Linked DNA regions of Homo sapiens. The protein of the gene in region 1 purifies or fractionates together with the protein of each later gene. This does not show direct contact. Each region holds a gene or a part of one and is shown on either strand. Other genes may lie near its edges.

Region 1 (7,703 bases):
GGTCTCTCTTCCCGCCTGCCGCATCTTCTAGGTGATTTTGCAAGGAGAAACGCACGTGCATGGCATAGCCCTTCTTTTCTAGGGCTCTTCTGTACCAGGAGCCTCACAGGTCCTGCCTGCCAGTGACTGGGTAGGGAAGTCCAGCACTGTGTGTCATCTCAGAAAGCCCTTCATTAGGACTATAATACTGTATTATAGACTGAAAATTTGCTGAGAGTAGATTTTAGGCGGTTTCACAACAAAAAAGGGGGGAGGTAACTGCAAAATGATAGGCCAATTTGATACCTATTTCATTATGTGCATCAAAATACCATGTTGTTCACCTCCTATACATACAATTTAAAAAATTTAAAAAGCCCACTCACCCAAAAACATATGCTATGCATTTTCATAGCAGCTTTTCTAGTAATAAAATATTATGACACCCATCTGCCAAGTCAGGGAAGGCAATCTCAAACTCCTGGACAGCACCCATCCAAAGGCACAGTGAGTGCTCAGCACATAGCGGCCCCAGATGGCCCCTCAGATGGCGTCCACAGCCACCAGGGTCACTGCTCTGATTGCGTGCCTCCAATTCTTGGCCTTCACCCTGCCCCTTGACCCCAAGGTTTCTGGTCTTCCTCCCTGCCAGCACCTTCTTCTTCCCTTGGCTGACCTCTTCTCAACAAAACTCCAAATACTGGTACACTCCAAGTGCAGCTCAGGCTAAACAAAGCCTTTTGCTCTTCTTCAAAGCTCCTGGAGTTCACATCCCTATCCAATCTCCCACCTGTGAGTTCAAGTGCCCTCAAACCCCTCCCATCCCCCAGCCAGTCAAGCCCTGACTTGGAAGTCACCTTTTATCTAGGTTTTAATTTCAGAGAAACAACGGATAATTCATAATGTAAGTACATCCTAAACACTGCAGCAGACAAAAATACTGCCTATCTGAAATTTCAGTGGGTTCACTGTATTGATAAATCTGGCATCACTACTTGTGTCCCTTCTCTACATTCATGCTCACATCCAGACACATCTAAGATCCCAACCCTCTGGCACTCTCATCTCTTAGCTCAGACAGAGCCCACTCCACCCCGCAGGCCCCTTTCTACCAAACCCTCTCCTGGCACCCATCACCTCACACAGCATGGCCCCATGAGGCACCAACTCCTCCCCTGCTTCTCTACACTTGCCCTGTACATGACCACCCTGGCCATGGGGCCTTCCACCCCCGCAAGAGCATGCATAGCGCAGCTCACTCAATCTGGTCCTTCACCTCCCTTCCCTGACCACACCATCTAAAAAGCCTGCCGCCTAACCCTGCTCTTCCCTTGCCCAACCCTTGCCTCATCTTTGCCCCTTTTCTCTTCCTCCAGCAAGGACAGTAGATGTTAACTGTTACATAAACTACTTTATTTAAATAAAACCAGGAAAGACCCTTTCCCCCTTACACACCAGCACATGCACACACGCACACCCACACCCTCCCTCCCTTTCGGCTGTCTGCCCATGGCCACCTCAAACCCCGAGGTTCTCATTGTGACCAACCTCCCTCAACCTGTAGACCCCCGTGCAGAGTCCAGTTGCCCACGCATCCCGGTTGCTGGCAGAACATGGGCCTAGAAAAGAGCACTCCATCTTCCTGGGGTGGGTCAAAAGGAAGGACTGGTTCTCCCAAGGCACCCAGATCTGGTGTGGCTTCCCTACAAACTGGGAGCACTGCCAGGCAGCTGGAGCTGCTCCCTGCGGAGGGCAGAACTTTTCACCCCAAGCCAACCCCTCCCTGTAACAAAGGAAGTAAGAGGGTTGGCAGCCAAGCTTCAGTGTGCCCCGAGGGATCCTGCAGTAGGTATTTTCAGTTTGGGGAAGAGCAAGGGAGAGCAATTGAGCACCAAATTCCCTAACCCCGTCCTGCAGGAGGGTGCTGAGTCAGTTCAGCATCCTCTACCCAGAAAAAGTAAACACAACTGTGCAGCAAGAGTGAGGGTGGGAATGACAGGGGCCTAAGCCTTCAGGACCTCATGACTTCACCCCCAACATGGGCCCTCTTAGGGACCCACTAGCACCTTGGCAATGTTGAGGACCCAGCCCAGCGGAAACACCATACCCACAGGAGCCAGTCTGGAGTTGGTGATGCTCCCTATGTTGACAGTGGGGTTGGGTTTCTCTCCCTGACACCAGCTTCCTGCAGGCCCTGTAAGTTCTGCTTTGGGGCACACATCGCAGAGTGCCTCAGGTCATGAAAGGGAATGCTGAAGGGAAAGGTGGTGTCTTCCGGAGGCACACAGTACATCTTACAGGTTACACACGGGCAGGCTGGAGCAGGACGGGGGGCAGGGCTCAGCAGCATACCTAGGGTACCCTCCAGAGTTGCCTTGGGAAGGGGGGCGGGGCTGGAAACCAACGGGAGGGGTGACTGTCCATCCCCTCCGACGGGAGTACTCAGGCCCAGCACCCATTTTCTCTGATGAGCTTCCCAGTGCCTTCTAGACCAAGTTCCCTGAGGGAAAAAGCCAAACAGATGGAAAGAGAGGGAGCAGAAAGGGAAAGCAAAGGGTCAATGCCCTGCAGATCGTGATGAGCTGGCAGGCAGAGGCAGACAGAGCGCCGAGGGCGAGCCTTCTGAATGGGTAAGGCAAAGAGAGCCGCCTGCTGAGGGGAAGGGGGAGGCTGTGAGAACGCCAGGGCAGGCACAGAGGACTCGAACACAGCTGGCCTCTCCCAGGGAAGCACTGGAGAAGGGGACCTTCGGGAAGACGAGGCCCCAGAGGAGAGGGCGTGAGAAGACTGTGGGCCCCAACCGGCCCGTGGTGGCAGATTCAAGCCAGGAACCCTGGCCCCTCGGCTACAGGCTGACGCTGCGCTGGTGCCGACCCCCACGGGCTCCGCCGTCGCTGCCCCGGCGCCCTCCACTCCGCGTTCCCAGCTCTTGGCCGTCCAGACTGACGTGGTCCGAGAGGCCTCGCAAGTGCTCCACGGAGTCGCACTTCTGCAGGTCTGAAGCCACCGTGCGCAGGCTCAGCAGACTCAGGGTATCGGTGTCGGGGGCGGGGCCGGGCCCCAGGCTGCTGCCCTCCTCCAGCCCCGCACCCTCGGCCCCCTCAATCCCGCTGTCTCCGTCCTCCATGTCCTCGGGTCCTGCCTCGGCCCCCACGGGGGAGGAGCGCCGAGGGCCCAGGGGGTGGGGAGGCAGACCCCCGCGGCGCCGTGCGTGAATCTGCTCGCTGATCTGCTCCAGGTTACGAAGGGCCACGGAGTAGCGCGTCTTGGCCTGAGCTACCTGCTGCTCCAGTTCTGTCACCTTGGCCTTGTGCTCCTGCAGAGGGCAGAGCAGAGCAAGGCGACCCATGGGGCACGTCTCCACCTTCCTCAGCACTCTGCACTGAGGTCTGAGGGCCTGCTCTCCCAGAATACCTGGACAGCTGGCTCAGCATCCACCACAGACCCACAACAGCCTTCCCTGCTCCACTCTCAGCACCCACCACAGACCCACAACACCCTTCCCTGCTCCACTTGCTCTGCGTTGTTCCTCCCCAGCAATCCTGCTCCTGACCTGAGCCCCACCTTCCAGAGCCTTCCTCTCAGGCCTTCCTCTCCACCAGCTCCTGCTTCCTCATCCTCTCCCCACTGTTCCCTTTCACCCAATGGCTGGTTCTTCTTCCCCATCCCAGATTTCCACCAGTTCTTTTCCTCTTGTTTACCTCCCTTCTTCCAACTACGTTCTCGCCGTCACCAGCCCCCATCACCAGCCCCCATCCCTGCCTCTCACTCCTGCAAGGTCATTTGGAACATGTGTGCCACCACCCTTCCCCACCGCTAGCCGGAGGCCTCACCCTGGCCACCTCACCAAGATGGCCCAGAGAGGCCGACCAGCATCCCCTCCAGCCTGCACCCCCACCTACCCATTCCTCCTCCCCCTCACCCACTCAGCTACCTCCAGGATCTGGCTGAACTGGGCCTTGAGCTCAAAGTAGGGGCGGCTCTTGCCGATGGCCCTCCGGAGGGTCTTCTGCAGGGCTTGGACCCGAGCCTCAGCCTGTTGGCACAGCCGAGTCACTCGCTGGTGCTCCCGCTCACCTCGAAGCCGCTCTTCCTCCGCCTCATTCACCTGGCCCAGAGGACACATCACTGAGCCAGGACCCATGCTTCAGTCTCTGGCATCTGCCCCAGGCTGCCAATCTGAACAACGCCCTGGGGGGAACCCAAACAGGAACATCCTCTGCAAACCCCCAACTGTGTACAGAGCCCGAGACACGCAGGGGAACACGGGGTCTATGAGCCTCAAGACAGCTTATTTCTGTCTCTCTTGGATCTGCTGCCTGACCGTCGAGGACCACATCACAGGCACATGCCTCTGAGCCACGTCTTCCCCATGTTCTTGCCTAGTGTCACCTGCACCACTGGCTACTCAGCTTTGCTGCTGCCAGGAAAGGGATGCTGGTGCCCACTCAACCACTTGAGAGCATCAGGGGAATGTCTGTCAGCACATCACACATCTGCAGCAGCCATTCTCTTCAGGGAGCCCTCAGCGCCAATGGTTAGGGATCTGGGAGTGAGAAGAGCCTGTGTGGGGAGCCACAGCTGTGCGCTGGGTTCTCCAGGTTTCCACACCCTATGTGGGCACCGTCCAGGACAAGTGGGCCGAGGTTGGATGGGGCTCTGGCGTGCTTCTGCTCAGGGTGTTGTACAGTTGGCCCACTTGTCCTGGTAGACAAAGCGGCTGGAGCCCTCACCTGCTCCCTGTTCAGGTGTAGCTCTACACTATACACCATCCCCTAACCCCTCCCCCCGTGCTGTGTGCTCTCATTTGCATGAGCTCTAGAGTAGAAGTGAGGTGCCTGTTCTGTGTGAGGGGCAGATGAAGAATCACAAGCCACAAACACCCCCTCGAGTTGCTGACACCTGCCCTGTGCAAGCTGAAGGTGGCAGACAGGGCCAACGGCAGAGATCCTTCCGCTCCCCAGTCCCCTTTCAGGAGCTTGGAAATGATACATAAATTATACTTCAAAACTCGAGGTGTACTGTCAGAGCTCAAAAGCAGGAAAGGGAGCAGACTCTGAAAACAGAAGCGAGGAGTCACACAGCTAAACATAATAAAATGTGAATGTTGAATCCTCAGTATCCACCAGGGATGAATTGTTTGGGTTAGTCCCACACCTGGAGGCAAACGTTCAAGAAGAGCCCGGGATGACATTCTAAGTCAGAGGGAAATGGAATATGGGAAGCAATGGAGGCCAAACAGAACAGAAAACTAGGAACAGGTTTTGCCTGAAACAGAATCAAAGTTGAAAGAAGGCTAGAATAGAGGGAAGAATGAGGAGGTGAGGTGATAAAGACATAGCAAAGGATGGACGAGAACCAGCGAAGGGGACCTGCTGGCACCGCCCGGCTCACCTTGCAGGTAGCATGGTTCAGCATCTCCTGCCACGTGGGGTCCAGTCGGTTCTTGTCAGCCATGACGCCCTGCTCAGCCACAAACACCATTTCTCGAGCAGCGTTGTGCATGCTTACGGCCCGCTCGTACCGCAGCGCTGCCTTCTGTGTCTCCTGCTGAGCCTGGGGGGAGAGGGATATCAGGATGGGGAACCCTGAGGGACCCCAGCTGCCCATGGAGACCCATAATAGACGTGAGGATAAGAGAAGGAGGAAGGCCTACTAGCAATGTCGGCTTCATTTCCCAAACTGTGCTGAGGATAAATGCCAAGGAAGCAACATTCTATAAAGAATATTTCATAAGGATATGGACTAGAAGAAATAAAAATTTTGCCAGTGGAGGGTAGATGTGTGAAATCCAGCACTCCCAAAGGCTGCTAGCCTTTTCCCCTAGGGAAAACAAAGGAAAACACAAACCATTTTAGTGTAAGGTGGTTAGCAACATAGACAGAGTCTTACAGAAAAGATGACCTTGAGACCATCAATTCCATGTTCAGCAGGCAAGCTGAAGGAAGTAATCAGACAAGTGCTCAGGGACAGTCATCATAGCCATACCAACCAAGCAAAAAACAAAACAAACCTAACTTTTCAGTTATAGGACATCGGTTAAATAAATAATAGTACATCTAATATAAGAAAATAAGCTGGGCGCAGTGGCTTCTGCCTGTGAGCCCATCTACTTGTGAGGCTGAGGGAGGAGGATTACTTGAGCCTAGGAGTTTGAGGTTACAGTGAGCTATGATCACACCATTGCACTCCAGTCTGGGCAACAGAGCAAGACCCCATTTCTTAAAAAAATAAAATATTAATCAGTCCTTTAAAATGACGGCTTGGATGTATAGTTATTGACATGGAACCATGTCATAATGCTAATAAAAGAACAAAATAGCACATACTGTGTAATCCCATTTTGGCTGGATATACAAGGACACGAAATATGATTAATACAGCACACATGGTTATCTGTGCTGTATTAATCATATTTTTATTTTCTATACTTTATGATGCTTTCATGTCTTGGGGGACCTTGCTGGCCAAGGACAAACTGCCCCTTCCAGGGCTAATTCCTAGAAACAGTAAACTCCCCTGTAAGTGTGCCTTTCATATGCAAACCAACCACCTAATCCAAAGCCTGGATCCCCAGCTAACTCCTTTACCTACTTCTCCCCGACCAAGCCGATATTTCCTCTGCCCTAAGTCATCCCAGGGCCAGGTACTAGACAATTAGAGGCCGCCCCTATAGCCCAGGGCCTAGCAAAGTTATTCCAACTATCCACTCCTAAACTTATCCAAACTTGCCTACCCTGCCTCACCTACTCCTTTCCACGAAAACCACACTAAGGCGCTGCGCTTTGCTTTCTCCTTCACTTCTGCCTCCTGAAGGACCCTGGCTGCTTCCCCGTGTGGCCCTGCATGGCATGGATGTCCCCTCCTCTCGGGAACAAACTCTTCTTCCAAGGCAGTTGTCTGTATCTGTCACCTCACCATACAGGATGACAACAAATCCCAGGAAACAAAATGCATGAAACGTGCATGGTAGGATTTTGGGTGATTTTTGTTTCCTTCTTGTTTTATTATGTTTTTCCAATGGTGAACACATATTATTTGTTAAAAGTAATTTGTTACAGAAAAAAGGGGTGTGGGATGGGGAAAAGAGTGAGGAGTAAGCAAAGAAAAGATTCAGAAGAGAGACATGAACCAAAGGGAAGAGGAAATGGGCGCAGATGAAAACAACAGGATGTTAGAACTGACATATCTGATATACCCTAAAGCCTGATTCCTGATACACAGAAGGCACTTAAACATTAGCAGGGCTGAACTAAATATTCTCCCACAGCCACCCTCACCATTTTATAGACCATAAGCCCAGAGCCCACGTGGTAAAGGAACCTCCTGAGCCCACAGAGCTGGTTCCGACCAGCCAGGTCTAGCCCAGGGCTCTGCCCTCAGGGTCTGGTGTTTTGTCTCTCACTCCATATAGAGACAGAAGAATCCAGGGCCAGGCTCAGCACGTAGCCTTCCTCAAACGTGGTCAGCCAGCCATACCTCCTTAGCCAGCCGCCGAGCCTCATAGTAGGGCCGGGCTTTCTCGATGCAGCTCCCCAAGTGGGAACCCTGTGTATTCAGTTTCCTCGCCGACTCCTGTAGGATCCTCCGATAGGTGGTCCTGGCCTCCTGGAAAGGAACAAGGCAGAGGAAAGGCACATGTTTGGGTCCCAGCCCCTCTTGTTTCTCAGACACACCCCTCCCACCGCCACTGCCTCAATCTGGGAAAGAGACAGATGGAGATA
Region 2 (7,417 bases), on another chromosome or scaffold:
ATGTTCTGGAGCTGAAACTCCAACAGAAAAGCTCTAGAAGTGTTCCATGCAAGAATATAAATATTCAAATAAGTTTATAACCATCTAAAACAATTTTGAAGGCTAATAAAATATATATAATTTGGGATGTTTATTACAAGTAAAGGTTGAGTGCATACGTGTACGTGTGTGTGTGTGTGTGTGTAACAGTCCATGAAAATATACTTTCCCACATGGTTATTAATCTTTAAGAGGGTGCCAAGTGACATCTCACAAAATGTATTCTCCTCTGCACTATGCAGTATTCAAGAAAATGACATGAGCTTTGTACAATCTTATGATTTTATTGTTAGAGGTCATGTTAAACTAAGAAAATAGTAATTTCAGCTCAAATGTGAGTTAAATCATCAAGTTAAAGTAAAGCTTTTTATTAAGTGAAGCTCTCTCTGCAGAATATCTCACTTAATATACATAACATTTAAATAGACTACTAAAAAAGTGACAGCTGAGGAATGCTTTCACTTCTTTCCATGGTTTCTACTGAATGTCATTTCAGAAATGCCTATACAACACATGACAATGTGGAATGTCTCCTCCCATGAAAGAGCATTTGAGTTGAGCAGCAAGCACACTTAGGGCAGTAACACAGAACTCAAGCGTGTCTTTTTATGGTTAGCCAGCATAACAATGCAAAGATAAACAACCAAAACACTAATAAGGTCAGAAAATACTGACATAGAGGGAGCCATAGTAAAAATGTTATTTGGAAAAAAAAAGTATCAGTAAAATAACAGAAAATATGCATTATTTCTAATATTACCATGCTAGAGATTTCTTTTCTTTTTCTTTCTTTTCTTTTCTCTTTATTGGTAGAGACACCGTCTCCCTATATTGCCCAGGCTGGTCTTGAACTTCTGGGATCAAGTCTCTTGCCTTGGCTTCTCAAAGTGCTGGGATTACAGGTGTGAGCCACTGCATCCAGCCTAGAGATTACTTTTCTAAATGAACACTCAAGGATTTGTTTAAAGAATTTTTAAACTAAGTTACATAAACTGAAGCGTCTATTGATAATCAGTAATAGATCTCATTTCAAAAATAAATCTAACATCCCAATAATTTTTTTCTTTAAGACAGAATCTCGCTCTGTCGCCCAGGCTGGAGTGAAGAGGCATGATCTCAGTTCACTCCAACCTCTGCCTCTTGGGTTCAGGCGATTCTCGTGCCTCAGCCTCCTGAGTAGCTGGGATTACAGGCATGCGCCACCATGCCTGGCTAATTTTTATTTTGTATTTTTAGTAGAGATGGGGTTTTGCCATGTTGGCCAGGTTGATCTCAAATTCCTGAGCTCAGGTGATCCGCCTGCCTAGGCCTCCCAAAGTGCTAGGACTACAGGCGTGAGCCACCATACCCAGCCACCTAATAAATGTTTTGATTGTAATAATGGCTACCTTTACATTGTAAGTATTATAAAAGTAAGTGGTTGATATAAGCTTTTTTATTAGGACATTTTAAAAGTTTGTCAGTGTGTTACACTTACCCAATTATTTAATATTCTATGAATTCTGCTCTTCAAAATATTAGTTTACATTGTGTCCAATTTTTTTTAATCATTAAATATTTATTGTGTACCTACTAAAACAAAATGCCGATACAAAAGGAGATTTAAAGAAAAAAAGAATCAAAGTCCCTACCTTAAGGGTATATAAGGGACTTCTTCCCCCCCACCCCCAGTATCCATGGTATGAAGTTTCCTACAATTTGTCTCTAAAAAGAATCAAATATGTACATGTACGTATGTATAAAAAATTTACTGTAAATGATTAAAAAAAACTAAAACAGGCTAAGTGCAGTGGCTCACGCCTGTAATCCCAGCACTTTGGGAGGCTGAGGTGGGAGGATCACTTGGGCCCAGAAGTTTGAGACTAGCTTGGGCAACACGGGGAGACTCTGTCAAAGAAAAAAAAAAATTAGCTGGAAGTGGTGGCACATGCCTGTATTCCCAGCTGATCGGGAGGCTGAGGTGGGAGGATCACTTGAGCCCAGGAAGGCTACAGTGAACTATGTTCATGCCACTGCACTCCAGCCATGGTGACAGAGTCTGTCACCCTGTCTCAAAACACACATACACACACCACACCCACACACACACCCAACAACTGAAACGATATAAATTGCTATTAGGGTAAAGAAAAATAAAGGTAGTTAAAAATTAAATTCTATGTCCTGAAAAAAGGAGTGTTTCTTGTTGCTGCTGATATATTCTGCACATAATGGTAAGTCAAAAATAATCTTGGCACTTCCTAAAATTTAGGACAATTTCGAATTCTGAGATTAATTTAGATACAGTACTACTGCACTTCAATTACCATAGAAAGGTCTTAAAAGTATGGGCTAGCTAAAACAAATGTGGATGAAGAAAAAAATTATATGTGTGTTTCACTTGATTTTCAGCTAATTTACAGAGAAACCTCCAATTACTAAACACCACCATAATGATGAAAAGATTTAAGAATATTTTCTTCTTCAGACTTCAAAGAAGATACCTGGCATAGGGTAAAGTTTGAGTTTCGGCATCAAACAGACCTGCATAAGAATTCCAGCTCTGCCATTTATTTTCTTGTTAACTTTGAGCAAGTGAAAAAGCATGTTGTGAAAATTAAACTATTGTTTGGAAAAGCACTGCTCCTCAATAAAACACTGATTAAGTCATGGCTACTACATATCTGACTCCAACTGAGAATAAACTTATAATTGTTGGAGTTCTTCAACCTTTCAAAGAGGTATACCAAAATGCCAATACCTCATCATCTTCTCAACCTTATTGTGGAGCCCCACAAACTTTCAAAAGAAGGGTGGAGTAAAAGATGGCAATTTTTTGCAGGCAGAGGCAATGAAAATAGCAACTTCATATAGTGTCAAGAAGTAACATGTTATGGTAGTAACAAAACAACGTTTTATGCCTCCCCCTATTAAAAGGTTTTTAAATAGTTTTCTTTTAAAAATCATCTAATAAGATTTTTAAAACACTTTTCTTATGTGAACTGTAATTTTTAAATGTGGTAATAACAAATGGATGATGAAAAACACTTCCTCTATTCCATCCAGTGTTTCTACCTGGCTATAGAAAATGCTCAGTCACAGCTTGCAATCATACTGTAGCTGAGGCACATGAAAGATGGTCTTGGTTATGACACCTCAAAGTCAGACCACAAAAGTGTTGCCAGGAAGCACAGAGGCAGCAACTACAGAAAAAGCATTAGAACAGCAGCAGTGTGGGCACTGGTGCCCTACCAGCACACCCCATATATGGCTAGGGTTGCCCACTTATTTGTAGGAAGTGAGGGGCCAGTTTGGGGTTGGGAGGGTTTTATTTGTTTGTTTAGGTAGGTTTTTAAAAATGGATTTAGGATGATTTCAATAAAAACTTTTGAAAGGCATGAGCATAAAGTGTTACAGCTTTTCTAAAAAGAAAACTATGCAGAGAAATATTTTACACTGCACATTCTTTTAGACACAAATTTTAATGCTCTTTAAAAGTTATCCAGTAGGTTCTTCCAAGATCTTAACATTCTCCATCAAAAAAAGGGTAAACAGTTACAAACTATAAACTCTTAATTCAGATTTTACATAGTAATCAAACTATTTGCTAACAAGCAACTCAAAATTAATTGCTTCCAGTCTCTTTTACACTTCACATCTTAAGAAGACTACACAAAAGTATTCCCTTTACTGACGAGAGGATCACATATTTTACAAAGATGCTTAAAATGGCTCCCTTAGAAGTAGATCAAATTTGTATTTTAAAAGCAAAAGGATTTCATATTAAACCTATCTGTAAGTCTGTCTGTTTTGGAAAGTAAAAGAAAAACTATTTTAAAATTCTAATAGCATAGAACATGGAACTAATTCTACTTTGTATTCCTCTAGAAGTGGTACCCAACCTTGGCATCAGGAACTAGTTTTGTGAATGACAATTTTTCCACAGATGTGGGTTGGGGAGTGGGGCCGGATGAAACTGTTCTACCTCACATCATCATCAGGAATTAGATGCTCATAAAGAGCACACAACCTAGATACCTCAGAAGCGCAGTTCACAATAGGGTCCGCACTCCTATGGGAATCTAATGCCGCTGCTGATCTGACAAGAGGTGGATTTCAGGCAGTAATGCTAGCTTGCCAGTGTGTCGCTCACCTCCTGCTGTGTGGCCTTGTTCCTCACAGGTCGTGGATCGACCTGTCCACGGCCCAGCGTTTGTGAACCCCCGCTCTAGAGGATCTAGCTCAGACTCTTACAAAGTGAGTAATTAATTAGTGACTCAACTGGATATAATATTTTTCTACCACTTAACCAATATCTAGACTGCTTTAAAATTTAATAGAAAGGAGGTCGATATTAAGAATTTTTTAGGCCGGCCACAGTGGCTCACACCTGTAATCCTAGCACTTTGGGAGGCCAAGACGGGCGGATCACTTGAGGTCAGGAGTTCGAAATGAGCCTGGCCAACATGGTGAAACCCCATCTCTACCAAAAATACAAAAAAAATTAGCCAGGCATGGTGCCACGCACCCGTAATCCCAGCTACTTGGGAGGCTGTGGCAGGAGAATCACTTGAACCTGGGCGGCGGAGTTTGCAGTAAGCCAAGATTACACCACTGCACTCCAGCCTGGGTGACAGAATGAGACTCCATCTCAAAAAAAAAAAAAGATTTTTTTAAAATCTCAAGATATTAAAATATATTGAAATCTACAACAAAGTTTTTAATTTGTTTCATAATCACACAAATTCCATTATGTGCAAGAACAATACGCTAAGTATCTGATGCGAAGGTTTCAAAAATATATCTCACAACATAAAAATAACTCTAAAACTTCCTATTGATGAGGTAAAAAGATAAAAATTCAATAAACCTTTAGTGAGCATCTACTATGTGCTAGGCTCTGGAAATACAAAAATTGTGGAAGATTAGGTCCTCAGAGGCTACAAGGGAAGACAAACACAAACACTATTCAGTAAAAAGTGTTTTTATTGCAGGAGAGGCAGAATATAAGGTACAGTGAACACCCCAGAAAAGAGAATGTGAATCTTGAACAATGACTAGAATTTTAATTGGCAAACGAGGGAGAGAGGATAAAAGGCATGGCTAAAGGCATGGAAATAAAAAATGTAAAGATCTAGTTGAAACGTAAGCAAGTTAACCAATTTCTATAAAGGATACAACACAATGGAGATGTATCAACCATAAGCTAAATGATAAAATGTACTATATCCAAATTTAGAGAGAGGAATAACACCATCAAAATGATACTGTTCAAAGATTAATATGACAGCAATATGCATGCTAGATTAAATAAGGGAGAGAATAGAGGCAGGAAAAACAATTAAGCTATTACTATACTCTAGGGATAAAAATAAGGCTAGGTGCGGTGGCTCACGCCTGTAATCCCAGCACTTTGGGAGGCCGAGGCAGGTGGATCACCTGAGGTCAGGAGTTCGAGACCAGTCTGATCAACATAGAGAAACCGCATCTCTACTAAAAATACAAAATTAGCTGGGCATGGTGGCACACGTCTGTAATCCCAGCTACTTGGGAAGCTGAGCCAGGAGAATCGCTCGAATCCGGGAGGTGGAGGTTTCAGTGAGCCAAGATAGCGCCATTGCACTCCAGCCTGGGCAACAAGAGCAAAACTCCATCTCAAAAAAATAAAATAAAATAAAATAATAAAGGTATGAACTAGGTTGCCAGTAAAAAGTGGCAAAGAAAAGAACTGATGCCAAGGTAATTGTAAAGAAAAGACTGAGCTAGAAGACAGACTGGATTATGCATAGACAAGGGGAATGAGTAAACAATAACTAAAATGTTTAACTTGATTCTAAAGATTAATACATCATTAACAGAAACAGGAACATCAATGAGAAGAGTAGACTTGATGAAGAAAGATAGACCTGTTTTAGGTTGAATTTAAAGAAATTCCTGACGATGTAAAATTGTCTTACCACCAAATTAATAATACTTTTAAAATAATTAGTTAAAAAGGATGCTGGTAAAGTCTAAAGATAAGTATCTCTAATGTTAACGGATAAACGTAAAATTATAATACTGAATTGCAACTATGAAAATCTATATTTGAACAATAAGAAATCCTTTGAAGAAATCACAAAGGTTAACGTGAATACAGTAGTTGCCATTCTATGGCAAAGGGGGTGAACTTGTATTTACTATATTACTACTTAAAAGACATTATTAAATATAAAATTACAATACATTTAATATTTCATTTCAAATCAATACATAACCCCAAAAAATGGAAATGAGGCTTGGAGCTTTGCAGAAATGAGGGAACTGTAAACTGACTTGGAAGTCACTGGCACAGAGGAAAAAGAAAAGATTTTAAGGCTAAAATCAACAGGCTAAACTCAAAACTGCTGGAGAAAAATCTCAGCCCTGTATTTTATGCACACCAGTATCAGTAAGAATCAGCAATAAGGCATTCTATATATAACTTTATTAATCTCCTTAAATCTTTACAAAATATGCTAAAATAGAGATATAATCACATACTGTAAAACTCTACCAGGTAGCTATAAAATCAGAAGCTGATTATTGCCCCATTGGTAATAATGAAATTCTACTCTAGACCTCGGTTCTAGAAAAACCAGAAATTTGTATCTATGGTTAACTTTGTGCTGTTTTGTAGCTTTGGGGGTCAGGTCCTGGGTAGAGTGGGTGGGGGAGAAAGGCTACTCTGGAGACTAAGATAGGAAATTTGACAAGAAACGCTGCTTTTTCTTCTATACAGAGGACACATTTCTATACAAAAAGAACAGCTGAAGACTGGATATCTTTTATAACTTCTAATGAGGTAGCACATTCAACAAATTAATAAACCTTTAAATATAAGCTCTTTAAAGTAAAAGCAAAATATTCGATTTTCAAAAGCATATTTGTGGGTTGTGATGTTCCTAAAACTTTTCTCTTGACAATGAAATTTAGAACACTTGATCAAAACCAGAAAGTAAATGAATATTCAAAAAACAATCAACAATTAACCCCGTTATACATTTTAGGTATTCTACGATCTTTTGAGAGGTTAAAGTTTTAAAGAACTATTCAAGGACTATTAAATCAGTGATTTTAGTTTTTACAATTAAGTATGGAAAACAAGCTAAGTTCAAGAGATTTCTTAAAGGCTTAAAATTTTCTTGTGTGTGTGTGGTTTTTAATTTTATTTATTGTCTTTCACTAACTGTTGTCCTAAATTTGCCCAAAGTGAACTCCCTGTTTTCATAGTAACAATGGGAAAAAAGTACAAGAGTTGATAAATAAGAAATGAGAGTGAAGAAAACATAACACAAATTTTTAATGCTTGATATTTTAAAGACTTTGGCTTCACCGATTTAAGGCATTTGCAGATATGGAAAAATGTTATGGAAAAGGG

Evidence for each region. Proteins that work in one complex are often made in the same cells at the same time.
Region 2: the proteins of SH3BP5L (region 1) and PPP1R12A purify together in Homo sapiens (affinity purification with mass spectrometry; 2 studies listed by BioGRID and IntAct, with this or other methods). This does not show direct contact.

The regions. Positions count from the first base shown.
Region 1 is NC_000001.11:248,809,076-248,816,778, forward strand, and holds the end of SH3BP5L (SH3 domain-binding protein 5-like), read right to left. Parts: intron 7,588-7,703; coding exon 7,459-7,587; intron 5,803-7,458; exon of another isoform or gene 5,654-5,802; coding exon of another isoform or gene 5,636-5,653; intron 5,536-5,635; coding exon 5,374-5,535; intron 4,171-5,373; exon of another isoform or gene 4,124-4,170; coding exon of another isoform or gene 4,088-4,123; coding exon 3,914-4,087; intron 3,296-3,913; coding exon 2,825-3,295; 3' UTR 1,371-2,824; downstream 1-1,370. UniProt on the Homo sapiens protein: Functions as a guanine nucleotide exchange factor (GEF) for RAB11A.
Region 2 is NC_000012.12:79,925,098-79,932,514, forward strand, and holds part of PPP1R12A (protein phosphatase 1 regulatory subunit 12A), read right to left. Parts: intron 1-7,417. UniProt on the Homo sapiens protein: Key regulator of protein phosphatase 1C (PPP1C). Mediates binding to myosin. As part of the PPP1C complex, involved in dephosphorylation of PLK1. Capable of inhibiting HIF1AN-dependent suppression of HIF1A activity.